Regions from separate parts of the Homo sapiens genome. Here region 1 is linked to region 2. Evidence: fine-mapped expression QTL. A gene starts in region 2. The other region holds a variant in brackets. All regions are shown on one strand. Distances are from middle to middle.

The links. PIP is the estimated chance that this variant, and not a neighbour inherited with it, causes the effect.
Region 1: its variant is fine-mapped to the expression of PACRG in uterus (GTEx, PIP 0.94).

Annotation. Positions count from the first base shown.
Region 1 is chr6:161,809,126-161,820,325 of GRCh38, reverse strand. The region is part of intron 6 of PRKN (parkin RBR E3 ubiquitin protein ligase); the gene reads left to right. Among named protein-coding and RNA genes, the nearest start is that of LNCR-SMAL, 420 kb to the left of the region's middle. The variant G/A (reference allele first, on the strand shown) is at 5,283.
Region 2 is chr6:162,722,266-162,733,465 of GRCh38, reverse strand. It overlaps PACRG (parkin coregulated), which reads right to left and starts at 5,492. Exons shown (of 5, transcript NM_001080379.2): 1 at 5,075-5,492. The coding sequence starts at 5,230. It overlaps PRKN (parkin RBR E3 ubiquitin protein ligase), which reads left to right and starts at 5,700. Exons shown (of 12, transcript NM_004562.3): 1 at 5,700-5,804. The coding sequence starts at 5,798. RefSeq lists silencers at 5,872-6,093, 5,583-6,122.

The DNA.
Region 1 (11,200 bases), 910 kb after region 2:
AAAACTCTTGATATGAATTATATTACCAGTTTGTTTTTCAGAGAGGTTTTGCTAATTTATATTCCCACTAGCAATGTATGAGTGAACCCATTTTGCCAGAGCTAACTACCATTGAATTTTTATTCAATGGTGGTTATTGAATTTTTAGAAAGATTGTAAATTTGATGAGCAAAATGCTCTCTTTCTGGTAAAAAAGTTTAAATTACTATTAATAATGAGGTTAAACAGTTTCAAGCATTTACTGGGATAGGTACGTTTATGTCACTGGCCTATTTTCTGTGGCTTGATAATAGCATGTTTTTACTAAATTGTAAGAGCTCTTTATATACTGAGGATAATAATTTTTTCAGTGTTACTTATTACTAATATTTTTAGGCTTAATTTGGCCAGTTAATTTTATGCTGTTTTGGATATTATGCTTTGAAGTATCTCTTACGAGTTTTGATAAATCATTTTTTATTTGAAAAATATTTTCTAAGCACATGTTAAATATCTGCTGCTATGCTTAGTGATTGGACTTCAGTGGTGGATAAAATAAATTTATCTACTTTTTCTTTGAGATTCGCTTTAAAATGTGATGTGCCTTAATCTCTGAAAGGTAGCCTTTGAATGTAAACCAAATGTGTTTTTAATAGCACTATTGTACTGACATCCTTAGAGTAGAGTGGAATTTCTGTTATTAGAAGCTCTGCATGTATTTTTATAAAATTTATTTAATTTGGGAATTTGATTGGGGGTAATACCTATAGAGATACAAGAAACATTTAGGAGTTTAACATAAATCTTTGTTACTTTTATGCTCATTATTTGCTATTATTTTTATTTTTATTTTTTTGAGACAGAGTCTCACTCTTGTCACCCAGGCTGGAGTGCAGTGCGTGACCTCAGCTCACTGCAACCTCCGCCTCCCAGGTTCAAGCGATTCTCCTGCCTTAGCCTCCCTAGTAGCTGGGATTACAGGCACATGCCACCATGCTTGGCTAATGTTTGTATTTTTAGTAGAGATAGGGTTTCACCATGTTGTCCAGGCTGGCTTGAACTCCTGACTTCTAGCGATCTGCCCACCTTAGCCTCCCAAAGTATTACAGGCATGAGCCCACATGCCTGGCCTGCTATTATTTTTAAAGGGTATCACATCTGTATTCATCTACCTATGTATCCCCTTTATTTTTTATGATATGAGAGGACAGTCAAGGACTCTATGAGAAATGAAATTTCCATTTATCAATACTGTTCATTTGGGCACCTAAGTTCGGAGTATAATGTTTGAATGCAATGTACATTTTCAAGAACATAACCGCAGTGCGTTGAGGGTATTGAAACATTCATGCACTCAGATGCCACTTATTGAATGTCTCCAGGCCTAACCACAGTACATGTTAGATGGATAAGGCCCTCTTCACCTGTCCACTGACTCCGTCTGGCTCCCATGCCCACCTGTATACCTACAGGGCTTGACCTTCCCTATCTTACCCCACATTCAAAGACTTCTCCAGTTCGTAGCTCTATGAAGTGTGTGGAAACAAGTGTGTCAAATTCCCAGGCCCTTGTTGTTGGAGATCTCTTGCCTTCTAGTTTTTTTGAGGGAAAAATTACATCATTGCTACTGTCTTACTGCCTTCTGTGAAAATGGTTTTCCTTGCTATCTAGTAACCTTTCCAAACTTGCTAAATTCTGTTTGAAAGTGACTAGGGGCTGGGCACGGTGGCTCACACCCAGAATCCCAGCACTAGGGAGTCCAACGCAGGAGGATCGCTTTAGTCCAGGTGTTGGTGATCAGCCTGGGCAACATAGCAAGATCCTATCTCTGCAGAAAAATTCAAAACTTAGCCAGGCATGGTGGCATAGGCCTGTAGTCCCAGCTAATTAGGAGGCTGAGGCAGGAGATACTTGGGCATGGGAGGTTGAGGCAGCAGTGAGCTGTGATCGCACCACTGCACTCCAGCCTGGGTGACAGAGTGAGACCCCATCTCTAAAAATTAAAAAAAAAAAAAATTAAAACAAGTGAATCAGATGTCCAGTCTTTCCACTTTGTTTTGAACTTCTTGACCTCAGGATAGTAGGACTGAGTCTCACAAGGACCTGCCCCTCTACCAAAAACTGGTCTTTGAGTTTCCACCTATGTGTCTTTGGTAAATCTGACCTTATCTTTCAGGAGAGCTCAAAGCAGTCACCTCACAGCTGTCCATTTCCCCCTACCCAATCTAATTAGGTTCATCTGCACCTGATAACTCTGTGTTGCTGTGTGCCGTCAGAGTAATAAAATGCATGTCTGTGTTATGATTTGATTAACCTTCATTGGTGCCAATGCTGTTTCTCTGTTTCCATGGCTCCTACGCCAGTAGACTATCCAAGGAATTATTAGTTACCTTATCAGAGCTTCACATCTTCAGGCTCTTCGGGGGTCTCCTTGGAGCAACGGTGGGAAGTGATTATTCTGCCTCCTTATTTGTGTTTTCTGGAAGCTTGGCAGGTCAAGTTCTTTTTGAAAATATTGGGTTGAGGAAATTTAAGATGAGATTTCTTACGCTGTAGGAGTAGCGTTGTCATTCGTGATCATGTGTGATTGTGTTCACAGTTCTTTGTTTTTATTGTAACTTAGTCTATATAAACCAAAACCAAAATGTCGATAAAATTTTCCACATGCAATGACAAGTATTGATACATTTAAGACTTTTCAGTTTTATTAACAAGTTAACTTTTCTTAAAAATAAAGTGGAGGACTGAGCAATATAGGTTTACAATATTTCATTTTACCATGTAAGGATGTTTAAAAACACAGTAACAAAAGTATCTAGTCTCAACATCACTTAATAAAAGGGAATCATTTTAACAGGAAATCTGGGAAATATATAGTTTCAAATAAAGGACTTTCTTCTAATTGGAAAATTTGTCCTTGTCACTAGTTGGTGGTGACAAACATACACTAGGTCTAAATCCCTGGGGACTGGGCATGGGAAACCCACGTGGCCCTGTTTACTCTCCAGTTCTGAGGGGGCTACTTCTTAGCTCTGCAGTGAGGCTCACAATTCACTACCATTTAGAGCCTCTTAAAATCGAGACAGGATTCATGCCCAGAGTTTATCAGAAGTCTGTGAATACACAAAGCACATTGATTTTTCTTCCTATTCTTTTCCTTCAGAAGCTATAGTGATGGGGGCTCCAGGAGTTTTTAATGTGATTCCAGATTAATTCTCTAGCAGTGGACCGGGAAGGTAGAATTGATCAAATTCTAGGACCCAGTCTCCTGGGCAAATCGAAGCACAAATTAGAATAACAAAACAAAAACTTTATGTGTGTGTGAGTACGTGTGCATGTGCGTGTGTGTGTATGAAAGTAATGAAAGCCCAAAGCCAGGACCTCATTTTTTCAGTTCCCTTTTGCAGGGAGAACTTACCTATGGGTACCGTTTTGGAGGACAGGAATCAAGGCATATACTGAACCCTGTTCTCTTTGTGAGTGACCCTGTTGCCATTTGGGACATCTGAAACAGGGCATGCTTTCAAATGCAGCATAGTGACAATCCTTTTACACGTTGCTCAATAGCAAAATTGGGGTTAAGAAAGTGACTGCGCATGAACAATTTTTTTTTTTTTTTGAGATGGAGTCTCACTCTGTCACCCAAGCTGGAGTGCAGTGGCGTGATCTCGGCTCACTGCAACCTCCAACTCCTGGGGTGTGAACACATTCTTCTTGTGGCCTCCCTCCAGCTGCATTGTGAGAAGACAGCCACATATGAAAATCTTTGGTTAAACAAGCCACTGTATTCTTAAACCTTTTTTCTGTGCATGAAATTTTTCACTGAGGTATAAGTGGTGTGTGATAAAACACACATATTGAAAGTGTGCAATTCAATTAGTCATGATACATGTATACACCGGTAAGACCACTATCACAGTCAGTGAACCCATCACCCCCACAATTGCCTCAGGTTTCTTTGGATTCTCTCCCTCCCACCCCACTCTGCCTCCCCTTCTCATCTCCTGGAGACCACTGATCTGTTCTCTGTCCCCATAGATTAGTTACCATTTTTTAGAGGTTTTGGAAGTGGAGTTACCCAGTGTGTGTTTCTTTCTGCTTGTCTTCTTTCACACAGCATCATTATTTTAAGACTCACGCATGCTGCTGCATATGTCCCAGCTCCCTCCTCGTTGGTACTGAGCAGCCTGCCGCCACATGGACTGCAGGGATCCACCAGTTTATTCACTCATCAGTTGAGGAACATTTGGGTGGCTTCCTGTTTGGGGCTATTTCAAACAGAGCTGCCAGGAGCATTTGTGTACAAGTTTTTGCATGCACACGGGTTTTCTCTGCATTGGTTAGAAATTCTGGAGAAGAATGGCTGGATCTCCTGTTAGATACATGTTCACCTTTTTAAGAAATTGCCAAACTATTTTTCCATAGTGAGTGTACGTGTGCATACCATTTTCCAAAGCGCAGGTTTACACCAGCAGCCAGACGCTTCAGGTGAACCCGTCGTACAGTTTTCTAGTCTTCTCTGTGCAGCTCTCTCTGCTCAGTTCTGTTAACTCCAGCTGCCCCGTCTTCCCCCTACACACAGACCTGTGGGTTCAATTCCGCAAGTCTGCTGAGCTCCCGCTGGGGTCTCCCTCCCTGAACCAGGGCCTGGCCACTCTCTGAAGGCAGGAGGCTGGAGTGATTGCAGGACTCAGCACGCTTGCTTCCTGTCTCTCACGGACCTTTGTCCCACATTGTCTCATGTCACTGTCTTGAAAACCATTGTTTCATATATTTTGTGGAATTATTAGGTTGCTTCAGGGAGGGAGATAAATTCAGTGCTTGTTATTCCATTGTAGCCAGAAGTGAAAGTCTGATAAGGCACTTTTGAAAGTTGACCAAGTTGGATATTAGGATCTGCGTTAACCACCAGGAACAAAAAGTCCCCTGCTAAGTAACCTATAATCAGCCCACAAAAGAATGGTAACTTTTCTTTGTATAGGTGAACACTTTGGATGGTTGAACTTTGTATACCTGAATGTTTTTAGATAAGTTATAGTTCTTTGAATTCAAAGTACAATACCTCTAGTTGTATAAAGCTAGGTGAAAAGTGTATAGCATTATTCATTTTATACATATGAAAATTGAGTCCAAGAAGTAAGTGCGAGTGTCCTAGAATCATATGAAGTAACGGCTGCCACTTGCAGTTGTGTAGGTTGTATACTGCACAGGCATACCTGGCTGCAGCAATGAATTGGGGATGAAATGCGGCTTATGGTCTGTTCCCTAGACTTAGTTCCCTGGTATGTGGTTGCACACACCTA[G/A]AGAGAGTTTTTCTCATTGTCATAAAAGTACCTCAAAGACCCATAAATTCAGAGAAGAAACTGTGTGATATGATTTGGTTGTGTCTCCACCCAATCTCATCTTGAGCTCCCATAATTCCCATGTGTCATGGGAGGGACCCTGTGGGAGGTAATTGAATCATGGGGGCGGGTCTTTCCCATGCTGCTCTCCTGATAATGAATAAGTTTCATGAGACCTGATAGTTCTATGAAAGGCAGTTCCCGGCTGGGCGCGGTTACTCATGCCTGTAATCCTAGCACTTTGGGAGGCTGAGGTGGGCAGATCACCTGAGGTCGGGAGTTCGAGACCAGCCTGACCAACATGGAGAAACCCTGTCTCTACTAAAAATACAAAATTAGCTGGGCGTGGTGGCACATGCCTGTAATCTCAGCTACTTGGGAGGCTGAGGCAGGAGAATTGCTTGAACCCGGGAGGCGGAGGTTGCGGTGAGCCAAGATTGGGCCATTGCACTCCAGCCTGGGCAACAAGAGTGAAACTCCATCTCAAAAAAAAGAAAAAAAGGCAGTTCCCCTGCACACACTCTCTTACCTGCCACCATGTAAGACATGCTTTTGCTCCTCTTTCGCCTTCTGCTATAATTGTGAGGCCTCCTTAGCCATGTGAAACTGTGAGTCTTTATTAGCAACATGAGAATGGACGAATACACTGTGTCTCTTTAGAAACCTCTTTGGTCACAGCACATTTGACTTCCAAGAGTTATGCTTCAGGTGGCACCGTTATGTCAGTCTGGACATTTTTGTGTATTCTTTGTCACTATGAAGAATATTTTAACAGGAATGGAAACAGCACAATATTAATTCACTCACAGCACAATGCTTGAATAAGAGTAGAAAGCAGTGTAGCCAGTGTTGCTCACTACAACTAGAGACTGGCAGTTTGTGCTCCTTGGATGTTTGCTCCTGGAGAGGAAAAAACGTCGCATCACCAAAGATGCTACCTTCTGTCAGCAAGGCCCTGAGCATAAGATAAAAGGATCCTCTTTTATTTGGATATATTTGCCCCACCTCTGTCCATTTTACCTGTTTTAGACCCTTTGAATTGGGGTCTGAGTATGAAACAGAATCAATCCAAATAATTCTAGATGCTTTAATGACAAAGATGAATTTGCAGAGATGTGGGCAGTGGTAGTGAGGAACCCAGAAACTGCCAGCTCCATCAGCACCCCAGTCTTTCAGAAGTAAGTGGCCTGCTTAGTGCTGCCGCAGCTCCAGGAGGCATGGAGGAGAGGAAGAGGATGGCCAAGAGGATCTGTAGCAGGGAAGGATGAAGCCACTGTCAGAAAATGTGACCCAGAGCTGGGTGGCAGCTGGCAGCCAGAGATCAGGGGAGCCTTGTGGGTACAGCCCCAAGGGCCCAACTTTCTGGGATGCAGAGCAAGCCTGGCAGGGCAGAGAGTCGTCATGGTGATGCGGCATGGGCATAGGGGGTGGGGGCAGAGAGAAAATGTGCACTGTAGGCTTCCCGGTTATTTTCTCTGTGGATGGATGAATTTACCTTACTGATTATGGAAGGCCAGACAGGTCTTTTCCTTTTCCTTGGATAAGAAGTTAGAAGAGAAGGAGAAGGAAACTCAGCTACCCCGAGTCCCACCCATGTGGCAGGCATCAGCCAGAAGCTGTCCACAGATACTGCACCGCCTCGCCGCAGCCCGGTGAGGCTGGGGACATCCCCTCCTGTGGTGGGTGAGGCGCCTGAGACTGGAGGTTGGGCAAAGGGGGACTCACATGCTCAGGTGCGCACCTGGGATGCTGAACCAGGATGATGAGAAGTTCATATCCTTTCCACTGCACTTCCTCCCACAAGCTAAGCCTCTCCTTTAGGAAATCCAACTGTCTTCCTGTCAGTTAAAACAGAATCCATCCAAGGAGGTTAAGCATCTGGTCTTCCTGCTACGAGTCTCTCACCTGCTTCAGTCCAACTTCCATGTCTGATTTATCTTTTGAATAAACAAGCCTCACTTTGTTACTTCCTGCCTGAAAACTTCTGGTTCCATGTCCTATTCAGGTTTTATTCTAATTCTTTCATCACTTTTGACTATCATAAATAATGCTGCTGTGACCATTTGTGTAAACGCCTTTGTGTATACATGTTTTCACTCCTCTTGGGAGCAGACTTTGTGGAATTGCCAAACTCTGTGGTAGCATATATTCAATTTTTAAAGAAACTTTACAGTTTTAAAGAAACTGCCAAACTATTTTTAAAACATTTTAAAGTATCTCCACAATAATATTTAAGGGCTTTAGTTTCTCTATATCCTTGCCAACACTTGGTATTGTCAGTCTTTTTAATTTTGGATATTTTAGTAGGTGCATGATAATATCTTACATTGTTTTAATTTGCATTTCCCTGTTGTGTAATGATCTGCACCATCTTTTCATGTGCACATTTGACATTCTGCTATCTTCTTTACTGTGGCATCTATTCAAATTTTTCTCCATTTTTAATTGGGTTGTTGGTTGCTTGGTTGTTTTCTTAATACTAAACTGTAAGTTTTTTTATGTATACTCTCAACATAGGTCCTTTCTCAGACAGATGATTTGTATGTATTTTCTGCCAGTCTGAAGGTTGCCTTTTCATCTTTATGGTGACTTTCAAAGTTTTTTTTCCCCCTTTTGGACACAGGCTTTTGCTCTGTTGCCCAAGCTGGAGTACAGTGCCGTAATCTGCAGCCTCAAACTTCTGGCCTAAAGGGACTCCCACCCCCTGCCTTAGCCTCCTGAGTATCTGGGACTACAGGCAAACACCACCACACCTGAGTAATTATTTTTATTTTTATTCTTTTAGAGACAGGGTCTCCCTGTGTTGCCCAGGCTGGCCTCAATCTCCTGGGATCAAGCAGTCCTCCCGTCTCAGCTTCCCAAAGCACTGGGATTGTAGGTGTGAACTACCATGCCTGGCTTCAACAACATTTTAATTTTAATTTTGATGAAGTCCAATATATTGATTTTTTGCTTTTACTGTTCATTTTTTGGTTTATCTTATCTAGAAATTGTTGTCTTGCTCAAGGTTACAAAGAAAATGTCTGTTATATTTTTCCTTCTAGATTTTTTTTTAATTTTTATTTATTTATTTATTTATTTTTGAGACAGAGTCTTGCTCTGTCACCCAGGCTGGAGTGCAAAGACACGATCTCAACTCACTGCAACCTCCACCTCCCAGGTTCAAGCGATACCCCTGCCTCAGCCTCCTGAGTAGCGGGACTACAGGTGCATGCCACCACACCCGGCTAATTTTTGTATTTTTAGTAGAGATGGAGTTTCACTATGTTGGCCAGGCTGGTCTTGAACTCCTGACCTCAGGTGATCCACCCGCCTCGGCCTCCCAAAGTGCTGGGATTACAGGTGTGAGCCACCGTGCCCGGCCCCTTCTAGAAGATTTAAAGTAATAGCTCTTTCATTTAGATCCTTGGTCAATTTCTTGTTAATCTTTGTGTTTGGTGTGATGTAAGGGACAATGGTTATGTTACTGTTGCTATCGTGCATATGTTTCTCCTCTTGTCCAAGCCCCGTATATTGAAATGACCAGCCCTCTCCCGTTGAGCTACCTTGGCTCCTCTGTTAGACTCACTCTTCTGTTCTGTTGATCTATTTATCCATCCTGATGCCAGTACCACACTGGCTTGATTTCTGTAACTGTATATGATGATGTCTAAAACTGTCTTTCATTTTGCCAGGTGAACTAGAAAATTAAACAATTTTTTTTTTGAGAAACTAAAGGACAATTACTGCTTGGAATCATTAGTAAAACCCAGAAAACTTTCTTTCTGACAATTGATTGGCCTAGTTTATTGGCTTGTGTGCTGCATTATAGCAAGTCCTGAAATCAGGAAGTTTAAGGCCTGAGATTTTGTTTCATTTTTCAGAATTGCTTTGGCTAATACAGATCATTATATTTCCATATAAATTTTAGAGTTAGTTTGTCTAGTTCTTTAAAAACTTTGATGATATTTCAAAAGGGATTATTTCGAATCTACAGATCATTTTGAGAATTACTATTTTACCAGATAGTCTTCCCTCTGCTTGGAGTACCCTTTCTTCCTCTTCCCCATCAGACGAACCCCTGCCCATCCTTAAAGATATAGCTCAAAAGACTTTCCTCCTCTGGGAAGCCTTCCTCAAGTTCCCCAGGTAAAGCTAGACACCACCTTGGCTGTATTTATGTCTCTGCTATAGCATACATCGTGTTGAATTTGAATTAGAATCCTAAGGATAATGACTGTATTTTATTTTTTGATTTTTCCAATGCCTAGTATAAGGTATATGCCATATGCTTAATAATTACTTGTCTAATAAGAAGTAAATACATGAATGTTGCAAATAATCATTTTTAGCATAGGTATTTTCATTTGAATGACTGTTACATAAGTAGTCACTCCTACAGTTAGCAGCCATGTCTTGATCCAAGGGAATGTCAGCTTCCCAACCAAGGTATGATGCTTTCTGTTTCAGAAAAAAAGCTTTTGTATATGGGTATAAAATGATGAAACGTTAGACGTTGTCTAGGACCTCCTCTTATCTCTAAATTTTAAGGAGGTCACACAGTAATTTATTATCAGTCTAGAATTCCAGTCTGTCATAATCCATTCAAGAGTTTTCTTAGACAAAACTAAAATATACATGTATATTAGTTTGCTCAGGCTGCCTACTACAGACCAGGTGGCTTAAATAACAGAAATGTATTTCCTCACAGACCAGAAGCCCAAGATCAAGGTGTTGAAAAGGTTGGTTTCTTCTGAGGCCTCTCTTCCTCGCTTGCAGATGGCTGTCTTCTCCCTGTATCTCCAGATGGGCTTCCCTCTGTACATATCTGTGTCATAGTCTCTGCTTCTTGTAAGGACTCCAGTCATGTTGAATTAAGTTCCACATATCTGACCTCATTTAACCTTAATTAACTCTTTGAAGGCCCCATCTCCAACTATAATCACATTCTGAGGCACTAGGGGTTAGGACTTCAATGCACGAATTTTAAGGGGGCACAGCTCAACCTGTAATACTATGTATGTATGAGTATGAATACTCATTATAAAGTTTGTTATATTTTATTAAACACATTTTTAAAAGTTTATTATTAAAAACACGTCCTAAGGGATTGAAAGAATTCCACATTGCTTTAGAGCAGAAACAGGCACACTTGTTTAGATTAGCTACTTAATAATTTGAAGCCAGTTTAACAGAAATGTAGAGTCTCAGGTGGTATCCTTCATCCACCTACATTCTTACATTCTGTTGATGATGTGGGACTTGTCTCTTGTAGTTTTTCAGTGTGAAGGGTGCCCTAAGTGCATTTGTCAAGGAAAAATTTATTATCAGTATAGGAAATTAAAATTTTATCACCAAAATGGAATGATTTATATTTTTAGTTTTCAAAAATTGATGAGTGAATAAGGTGACTTACATGTTAAATAATGTTAAATCCAAAAAATAGATATTTCCCTTAAGAAAAAAGTTCGCTACGCAGGACAATAAGCTATTAAGCAACTGGGATATTTGCTATTTTTTTTGTCGCTTTATTTCTAGAGCCCACACAGAACCAATAATTCCAAAATGCATATACCTTGACCCAGTTTCTCCCTAACATTTTTTTCTTAACATTGTTATCTAAACCCTTGACATTGTACTTCAGATTCATTGTCACCATAAATGCAAGTCCAGAATCCACCTCCTCACCTTCTCGTATGATCAAGTACCCAGCCCCAAGTGGTAATTCCTCAGGACTCGGGATTTCTGAGTCATCCCCCTTCCCCCCCTGCCTTTGAGGACTGTTGATGTGTGGGTAAGGGGTACACCCAATATGGTATTTATAACTAAAAAATATTTTCTATCTGTGTCATCCTTTCAACTTTAAAGTTAAATGAATATGATCTGACCGGGCTCTGTGG
Region 2 (11,200 bases):
ATAATAAGAAAGTAGGAGAATATGAGATAAGAAGAAAGGGTAGAATTGCTTTCCTTCATTCATCAAATATTTATTGAATACACTGTTAGGTTCTGGTTAAGATTAAAAAGTGACTTAGATGTGGATACTGCCCTCACGGAGAATTTACATAAGGAGATAAAACATGAGCAGAAATGACCATAATACAAAGTAGAACACAATGAATAAAGGATAACTTTCTATGTGGGTGACAGGAAGGGAGAATTAAAGAAGTCTTCTTAAAGCAGTTGGCATTTTGCTGGCCACAAAAATATAAGCTTCTTGACAGCATGTGTTCTGTCTTTTGCTGACTGCTAAATTCCTAGCATTTAAAACAGTGCTTTGCACATAGTCTGTGATCAATAGATATGTGTTACCTGATGATAGAATGAATTTGTATATGCAGATATGTAGGGAGAAGGGTGTTCGAGCAAAGGGAACAACATAAACAGAAACACAAAAATAAAGAATATGAGTTTATTTCCTTGGTTCAGATTGACTGAAGCAAATGAGAACAGTGGGAGATGAAATTTTAGAACACAGAATGGGATTAGATCACACAAGACCTTGCTGGCCCTGGGGAAGTATCTTGACTTTTTTTCTATAAGAATTGGGAAGCTCCAAAAGCTCTGAATAGTGATAGGAGCAGAACATTGTACCAGAAAGATTAGTGTAATTGTACTGATAATTGATTGAGGGAGTCAACCAATTGATAGGTGGATGATATTGTACAAGCCTAGACAAAAGGTGATGAGGGCACCCATTAGTTCATCGCCACTTGGTCCCTTCATCATTAGTACTTCTCTGCCAGAGACATCTGTTTATTTGTATTGTAATTATTTTACTTGTCTCTCTCCTTTTCTTCACTAATAATGTAGCACATTTAGCACTGGAGCTAGACACTTCTAATTATCCCCCAATATTCCTTGGCTACAGTAATAAAACATTGTGAGTTTGAGCCGGACACAGAGCTACCAGTTAAAGACTACATGTCCCAGCCTCTCTTGCAACTAGCTGTGGCCATAAGACTAGGTTTTGGCAATGGATTTGAGCAGGAGTGAGGATTGCTGTTTCTGGGACATGCCCTCATAGTGAAGCTGTTTGCTCTTCATTTCTTCCTGCCTCATTCTTGCAGATTGCTCCATACCCATTTTTCTCTCCTCCACCTGAAGTAGGTGTTGGAGATGATGCCCTTTTGGAACTACATAGCTTCCTTCATCCTTTTCCTGAGGAGACAGGTACGTGGGCTTGGGAGTTGCTTCATGGGTCAAGCTTTCATAGGCTTTTGCAAAAAGGGAAAATGTAGGTGTATTTATTACTAGGTTCTGGCCAGTTGGATGAGAATGAAAGTGGGGTGCTGTGTCTGGGTCATGCACATAATGGGAAGCTCTCTGCTTCCACTTTCCTCCTTCTTGAGGGCAGGTATTTGACCCTGGTGGTCTCGAGCCCCCCTTGTCTCAGGTGTCATTTTACAGGATGCAAAGAACAAACATGCTCCTATGCCCCTGCACCTGCCTCATGGGGAATGCTGCCCAACCTCCTGGGATTGCCTACAAAATTGAACTTCTATTATGAGAGAAACAACTTCCATCTTAATTAAGCTATTGTTATTTGGTCAGTGTTACAGAAGCCAAATTAATATTTTAATATATAATTTATAAATATTGATGATTACCACTACGTGTTAAATGAGCACATGATTGGTAAATATAAAACACACTATACATGTAAAGTATAGGTTGAACTATCCCTTATCTGAAATGCTTGGGACCAGAAGTGTTTTGGATTTGTTTTTGTTTTTTGTTCAAATTTGGAATACAGTCATCCCTCAGTCTCCATGAGGAATTGTTTCCAGGACCTCCTGCAGATACCAAAATCTTCAGATGCTCAAGTCCCTGATATAACATGGCGTAGTATTTGTATGTAACCTACACATTTCTACCTATATACTTTAAATCATGTCTATATTACTTATAATATCTAAAACAATATAAATGCTCCATAAATAGTTGCTATGCTCTATTGTTTAGGGAATAATGACTCAAAAAAAAAAGTCTGTACATGTTCAATACAGATAAAATTTTTATCCCAAACATTTCAATCCAAGGTTAGTTGAATCCATGGAGGCAGAATCTGTACAAAGAGCTGACTATATCTGTATTATATACTGATGGTCACGCCAGTTCTGAAAATCTGAAATCCAAAATGCTCAAAAGAGTTTTCTTTGAGTGTAATGTCAACACTCAAAAAGTTTTGTATTTTGGACCACTTCAGGTTTCAGACTTTTGGAATAGGAATACTCAACCTTTAATATTAAAAAAATTATTTATTCCATTCCCCTAAACTTTGAGCATAAAGCATCTATAGTCTTTTGAGAAGGAAAGCTGTAATAGAAAGCTTAGGCTGAACTCAACTTCTCTGTCACCATAACCCTGGGTCGATTTTCTAACTTGCTTCGTGATAAGCTTGTTCAGCACAGAAAGTATCTGACAAGATAAAGACAACAAAATACTGGGTTACTAGTTTCTGGTCATGGGCTCTATCACACCCCAAACAAGACTTTTAAAGGAAAATGAACTATGAAATCTTCAAGTTGTGTATCTCATATCTCTTTATAGGCAAGCACTATAAAAATGTGAATTTGAATATTATTTCATTGCAGGGCTTTTGTGATGCTTGTTTTCTTATAGAATGCAACAAAAATTTCATGGAAAGAAAGTCTAGTTTCTATTGAAGAAAAATATTTGACATTGAGATTTTAAAAATTTTGCCATTTACATTTATCATTATTTTTTCAATAATCTTGCACTCTCATATCCAGATTGTTTAAATAAGCATTTCTGCTTGCACAGCCCATTTGATGAAACATATTTATTATCAAGTTTATGTACTTGTATCACTATCGCACTCAGAGAAATATCAGGAGTCTCTGTATAACTCCTTATGATATATACAGTTCTTCATGTTTTAGGTGGAAGAGCATTGGAATGTTGACTTATCTAACTGGAAAAGTGGTTTGGAGGGTGTTGGCTCTTGGAGCATGAGGTTGCAATTAAGAAAAGCTGGAAATTGGCATACACGTCCTGAATCAAAATACACCTTCAGAAAGAGATGAGGACATTTTCACCTTATAATGCTGAGAAGTCTATACTGCTAAAGATAAAAATGGTGAAATGTAAATATTGGTTATGAAATTGAAAATTTTTATTTCCTGTACCACTGAAGTTATTTTGTATAAACGGTATTGTCCAGCCTTCTTTTATCAAGATTTGAATGTTGTTATTTTGGTTTTCCTCGGAGTACTAAGGGCAGGGACTTTGCTTTGCTGATCCCAAATCCCCAGAACTGTGCTTAGCAAACACTGGGTATTAAAAAAAAAAAAAAGAGAGACAGTTGTTGACTGAATAAATAGATGAATGGATAAATAATGTTTGCATTTAAGAATTACGATTTCCAATGGCAAGAGAGGTATTGCTAGTACAAGATTTTCCTTTAGAACATAAAAAGAGAAGATAATGGATCTCAATTAAGTTGTTTATAAAGAAGCCTGCTTCATAATCAATGTTTTTTTTAAGTCATGTAGGCATACTTATTACATTTGGCAATACAGAAACATCAGATTTTGCAGAACTATCTCTTTAGGTGTAAGATTATATTAAAGAATTAATATGATACAAGAATTATGAATACAGGTTTAGGAAAAAACAGAAAAGAACCCCAACCAGTAAAAAAAAAATTAAAGTATAACATTAAAAAACATCAAAATTGTAAATATTGTGTAGAAGAAAAACTAAATGATTAACCTGAATGGTTATGGTATTGCTGATAAATGCATCATCTTGACTCCTAGGAGAACCAATTTATGTGAAATTCCATGAAAAAGAATTAGTTACAACAAGCAGAATTTTAGTCCATTTCCAAGAATTTTAACTACTGTAAATCACCTGACACACTTCCCAATAATTAGGATATCGTTTTGCATAGCCACATGGGAACCTGGCCTAGAGGTCTATAGGTAATCTGTTTCATTCATGTATTTTAAGTATGTCGTTTAGGAATAAGTTATCAGGTTTGCAACCTATAAGCAAAGGAAATAATGTGACACTGGAAAACAACACTATTCATTTAACATAATGAATTGCCATGTAATAACTCAGATCTTCCCAGGGTGTAAATTACACAAATTTGAAAGATGCATTTATTATTTAATGCCTCATTCCCAGACAGTTGCTTACTCAGTAGCAAAATCTGTCTTAGCATACCAAGTGTAAAGCTATTTAACAAATAGGAAGGTTTAAAAAATATATACTATCATGCAGACAGCTAAAATATTTGTATATATTTTTAATCTTTTTTCTCTAATGATACTTAGAATATTTTATTTTTATTACTACAAATAATAGAGATGAAATATGAATTGTATTAGTAGCAGAGATATATGAGCTAAAGCTTGTATTGTTTAAAGCACATCATCTTAAAAGGCCTGTCAGGAAACAGTGTTCATATTAAGTTGGCTTTCAGTACTCTAAGAAGATGACATCATTTTGTAAGAGACAAGTGTTGTTAGAGCAAATGCTAGGATATTCTAAAATTTCCTAGGTTGAAGTGAAGAAATTTCTCATTATAGATTATTTCATGAGTTTATGTTCCCGGTTGTATATCAGCTCATGTTAAATTTTGCAAGAGTTTATGATTTCTAAGAACTCACCTTCTATAAGGCCCTTTGCTGAGTGGGGCTAGTTAGGAATTAGTAAGTAAAGGGGATCTTTTTTCCTCGTGTAAATAGCTTAAGAGTAATTTTGGGCGGTCCAGAAACCATAAGTTATCAGGAAGGTGCTTATAAATGGGCAGAGTACATCACTTGCCCAAGATTCTAACAACCTAGCCTGCCCCCCACACACTGTGGGGCACCGTTTGCTACTTGCCAAGTAACTGCCTTTTTTGGCAAAGACCACCCAGGACATGGCTCAGAGTCCATCCTAAGGCTGGCCAACCTCTGTAAATCTCGTGTCCCCTGATTCAGAGCGAGTGCATTTAATTCAGGAAGATCACTTACGACTGAGTTTTTCATCATGGCTTTGACTGTGAAACCCTCAGAAACCAGAGAGTGAGGCTGGTGCACCGGGAGCGGCTGTTGTGCCAGCAGCTTGGTCCTCTTCGGCATCTTGTCTGGGCATTTGTTTAAGCTCAGGGTCTCTTTTTCTGCCACCATCTTCCTAGAAAATGTCTTGTTCTCATAAAAAGTGTAGTAAAAGAATCAGTGGGCTTTACGGATGTGAGCAGGAGGTCTGGAAAAAAATATCAAAAGGCGCGATAATGGTAGAAATTCAACCCCTCGTAGTGCCCAGGTTGATCCAGATGTTTGGCAGCTCCTAGGTGAAGGGAGCTGGACCCTAGGGGCGGGGCGGGAAGAGGGCAGGACCTTGGCTAGAGCTGCAACAAGCTTCCAAAGGTAAGCCTCCCGGTTGCTAAGCGACTGGTCAACACGGCGGGCGCATAGCCCCGCCCCCCGGTGACGTAAGATTGCTGGGCCTGAAGCCGGAAAGGGCGGCGGTGGGGGGCTGGGGGCAGGAGGCGTGAGGAGAAACTACGCGTTAGAACTACGACTCCCAGCAGGCCCTGGGCCGCGCCCTCCGCGCGTGCGCATTCCTAGGGCCGGGCGCGGGGGCGGGGAGGCCTGGAGGATTTAACCCAGGAGAGCCGCTGGTGGGAGGCGCGGCTGGCGCCGCTGCGCGCATGGGCCTGTTCCTGGCCCGCAGCCGCCACCTACCCAGTGACCATGATAGGTACGTGGGTACCTGCCAGGTACAGCCTCTCTGCGCCGCCCCACGCCCCGGTATGGCGCCACGCCCCGCCTCGGCCGACCAGGACCCCCGGTGCCAACTGTCAATGACGGGGCCAAAGTGCCCGTGCCGTCCCCGGCCCGCGCCGCCGGGCTCCCCAGCTCAGCGACGCGGGTCCGGGGCCCCAGTGTGTGCGTTCGAAGCCCTCGCCTGCCCGCCCCTGCTCTGAGCGTTCTCATGAAGACCGCCTCGACGGGGACGCCAGGCGGCCCCGCACCCCCGCTCCTCGTTCGCGGTCCCCCGGACCGTGTGGGGTCCCGAAGCCTTCTCCCCGCCGCCGCCCCTCACCTTCGCCCCGCCGCCGCCCCTCACCTTCGCCCCTCACCTCACTGGCCGGTTGTGGTGCGGTTCAGGACCCATCGAGACCCACTCTCTGTGGGGCTCTTTCAGGAAACCGCAGCAAAGCATTAAACTCTAATGGAAGGCACCTGGTGAGGGTGGCTGGCTCCACAGAAACTCCTCCAGATAGATCTAAACTTGCTCCCTCGGATGTTTCCTTTTAAACTTCTCATTGGAGGGCTGAGATGAAAGAAACATTAAGAGTAAATAGTAGCCAAGATTAAATCTATTGCCTTTTGCAAAATAACCTTTCTTTTTTTTTTTTGTAAAAGAACGACCGAGGTGCAAGTTTGTGAACGAAACTTAGTGGCATCAGAGTTGTTCATGAACACTTGATGTGTAAGATGAGCAAAGGTCCTCTCTTCCAGGGTTGTTGAGCCAAAAGTTACTTTAGGGGCTATCCCTGAAAATTAATGGAAATGCACCATATGTTTGAAAAACAGTGCTAGATGGGGTTTCATTATTGTGGAGGTTTCTCCAGGTTATGTATGGAGGGTTTAGTGAGCTTGTTTATTCCTGAGGAGGGTCCTTTACAAAACACTTTTGATTGCAGTAAGTACGTTCGAAGTCAGATGTGGTCTGTCCAGAAGAAAGATGAGAGGTGGATTTATAAAGTATATGATCTTTATGCACTGAAAACACTTCTTACATCTGTTTATTTGTGAAGTTATTGTTAAAATGTAAACATTCTCCCCATCAGTGGGAGAATCAAGCCAGCTAACTGGCATGGTCTTTGTGGTAAAACAAGAATGTTGTCCAACTTTTCTTCCCTTTCTAGCATGGTCTGACTTTTGGTGAATGACTTGAAAGTTAATCAAATTACGAAAAAAATATTTTTTATGAGTCTTCTTGAGCTCTTTTTAGGTGACATTTACGTAAGATTCACTTGCAAGCACAAGTTTGAACTGAATCAGAAAACCAAGTAGAAGAGATTTTCCAATATCTGTGCTGTCAGTCTACAGGAAGAAAATAGCCTATACCTTATTTTGAAGACAGTTAAATACATTTTATTTTAATTTAACTTAATCTAGTGCACAGATAATTTTAAGAGAAACAAATTTATTGTAAAGCTATATAAAGACAAGCACTTAAGATCTAAAGAACATTACTCAGTTATAAGTTATGACCTAATAAGTGATTATATAAATAACTTTATTAGGATGAAATGTGTTTGGACAGTTCTGTTTAGTTTTATCTGGAATTCTTCCAATAAGGAAGAAATATCTTTGGAGTTGATGATTAAACAGTTATCAATTACTGGTAATGACATGGAGAATATAAGGTTGGTTTTTAAAAGTGTTATTTCTCTCACTCCAGCCATGGTTTTACATAGTGCAAATAAGTGTGCAGTACAACATAAATGATTAAATCCATGCCTGCTTTCCCTAGGAAATGTGCCTTACATATAAGATCATGGACAATGTGCAATAAAATATTCAACTAGTTGCATTGCCTAATTCTGAAATTAGACACACGTCTTTTTTTTTTTTTTTTCCTCTTTTTGAGACAGGTTCTGTCTCTGTCACCCAGGCCGGAGTGCAGTGGCACCATCACAGCTCACTGCAGCCTCCAACTCCTGGGCTCAAGTGATCCTCCCATCTCAGCCTCCTGAGTAGCTGTGACTACAGGTGTGTGCCACCATGCCTGCCAATTTTTTGTTATAGTTTTTGTAGAGATGGAGTTTCATAATGTTGCCCAGGCTGGTCTCAAACTCCTGGGCTCAAGCAATCCTCCCGCATTCGCCTCTGAAAGTGCTGGGATTACAGGCATGAACCACCACGCCCAGCCTCATTAGCCACATTTCAGTAAACATCTGAATGGTCAGTTTGGGATTTGGGTGTCGTGAACAGTGCTAAAGGTAGGTGAAAGTGAAAACCATTAAAAGGAAGCCTTGGAGTGATGGGTTTTGTGTTTTTGTGACAAAAATTCAGAGCCAGGAAAGACATTATAGACTTTATCCAGTGATCACTAAAATGTAAATAGTATGTATCTGGGATTTTCTGTTAAAGGTAAGAGTGCTTCTCAAAGCTTGCTCCTTTCAGGCCTATGCTTTCTCTAACTATTACACTCACCTTGTTGCGGGATTCGGGAGTATGAGGGAGACCTCAGGTTGAAGCAGGAGAATCTTTATTGAGTGTACTCAGGCCCAGCTGACTCACATCCAAAAGACTGGGCCCAGAATAAAGACAGTACTTGACTTTTATACACACTTCACAAACGGAGGTGGGCTAGCTTGAAGCAAGCTTACAGTGGCGTGAAAGCAGGGATACAGAGGCAGGACAAAGACAGGATTGCAGATGACCATTGCCAAGCAACCCAGATGTTCGTTTTCTAGGTTTGCCTGGGCACAGGCTTATCCTATAACCTTCTCTGTGGTGCCCAGGCAGCTGTAGTTCAGGCCTACTCAGGCTTTTTATGACCTTCGTTGTACTACTTAGATAAAACAGAATACTTGAAATCACTAGTTACAGAGAACAAGAGTCTATAAACTCATTCTGTAAAACAAAGGAAAATTTGTTTTTCTTCTCCCTGTGTTGAGGGAGTGCTGAGAGAGTCTCCAGAGCATATTAGATAATATTATCAAGACTTTTCCTGGGTCTAGGCTGTGCCTGTTGCTGCTTCTGGAACAAGTTAGCCTAAAACAGGAAAACTTATTTCTCTTTCTTTTTAATTTTATTGTTCTTTAATTTCCCGCCTCAACCTTACTGCGAATAATATTCTGCCACTTTATTTAAATCCTGGCTTAGTTTAAGGAGAAACGTAAAGATGGGTTTCCTGGTAGAATAGGAGTAAACAGGACTGACTGTGACCTCACTGCTAATGACATGTACCTTCCTTTTACTTTCTCAAAACCGAAGATTCCCTTATTGGCATGAGGACTGTTTCAAAAGTACTTACATTTCCCACCTGCATTGTGATTGATGTGTTGAATGCCCTGACCCAGGCAGCTACAGAAACATAATTTAATTGAAGTCGGTTAAAAATTGTGCCTTTGTGGAAAGTGTGGAGAAGGACTTCAAGATGATATAAAGCAGAATAGAAAAGCTTAAAAGAATTCAATTTAGAAAAATGTAATTTTTGGTACCTCTATTAAAAATATATTTTGACTTTTTTAAAAATGAGCAATTCTTTGTGTTTAAAATGGAATGTTAGTGGGGATATTTGTGGTATGTTCTAAATGTTCTGTAGAACTGGATTTAGGTATTTGAGTAACAGCAGATATTAGAGTGCATGGTTATATATACAACAATGTTGTCAGTATTGAAATACACATTCAGTGTCTTAGACTTTTAAGAAGATTTTTGATTGACAAAAACCATTCATTGGAACATAGTCTCTTCTATACCTTGTTTCACTTAGCATCTCTTTGAGAATTTACATATCTGCATGTCCAGATCCACTCCACAGCGATTCCTGCCTAGTCTTTTATAGGATACACTAATTATGAAAATATTTACCAATAAATAAGCACTCATTAGGTTTACAGACAACTGTTGTCAGAAGTGTTTGTGGCCATATCTTTTTACTTGCACATGTAAGCATAGATGTAAAATAAAAATCGTATGACAATTTGAGTTAAAGAGTTTGTAGATTTTACATTTTCCTAGGTATTTCAAAATTTTTCCAAAATAAGTTGCCCAATTTTACAAGCCTATCTAAAGCCTCCACTAATACAACATGGTAGTAAAGAGCTGCCCTGCCCCTCTGGGCTGAAAATTGCCAAAAGACGTCCTTCCTGAGACTGACTCAGCTTTCACTAGCAGAACGCCTCCTGGATCTCCGGTCCCCCACCTCTCTCTCACCCTAGGGGTAGTGCCTTTCAGTGTACAAGCTGCACAACTGTCCTTGGTGGCCCTGCCCTCCCTTTCAGTGTGTATAAGAGTGCCCATTTCCTCCCATGTGCCATCGAAGATTTTTTATTTTTGCCGTCTTGACAGATGAAAAACAGTATCTTTTAACTTTTCAAATTAATTTAGAAGAAAACTTCTCATTCTCATCTTATAGTGCGTTAGTTTTGCAAAAGCAGATCCAGTGATTCCAGCACCTGCTATGTACCCTTAACTGCTCTAGGTGCCAGGGAAACGAGGGAACACAACAGAAAAAGTCCCTTGCCATCAGGAATGTATATTCCGACTTCACCATTTGGCTACACATCTGCATATTTGTTTTCAAGCTTGTGTGCAGTGAATTTTAAAGTCTCAATTTATATTTCTAGTTGAATATACTGTGTACTGCTCTTTGCCCTGCCATTTTGATAAGTTGATGAAAACCAGCTCTATGCCTAAGTACCCCAAAGCTTCTGTTTATAATGAGGTAAAATTGTGTCAAAAATAGGCTCTACTAAAGTTTTGCATAGAAGATTTTATGTAATTATATAATAGTTCTTCCTTGGGTCCAAAGGCTCTAAAATGACCCTTTGCCCTTTACAATTTTGGCCCTATTTCTGAGGATGTTTTTGAAGTCTGCATTTTTTGAAACCTCATAGTTTCATTGCCTGAAAATGATACAATGAAAGTACTTTGTATTAAGATATGTAAATCCATTCCTACCTCCAAAGTTTCTTTGAAAAATGCAAAAAAAAGAGTTCTTACTTCGAAATGCTTCATATTCATGAAAGCAGTTTTAATGCAAAATACTTTATTCTGTTAGCTATTAGTTCTTTGATCAATGAAAATTGTTTCTTACCTGCTGTTTCTGCAGCCTTTAATTGTAGCCCAGTGCTTATTCAATGTTTCTGTTTTAATTTGCATTTAATGAGCTCATTTTAAATGTTTCTTCGTAGTAATCTGAATGGTTTCTCTCCCTCAATTTTGTAATATTAAAGAGACTCATGTGACAGTCGGCTGATTTATGTTGCAGCTCACCTCCCTGGCTTATTTACTTCATCCTGTAGCATAGAATCTTGGTTAAAAGGAATTACAGTAATAGGATTCTTTTCCCCCAGTAATTTCCTAATTACCTAGGACTCTTAACAGATTAACTCAAATGTCTGTTTTTCA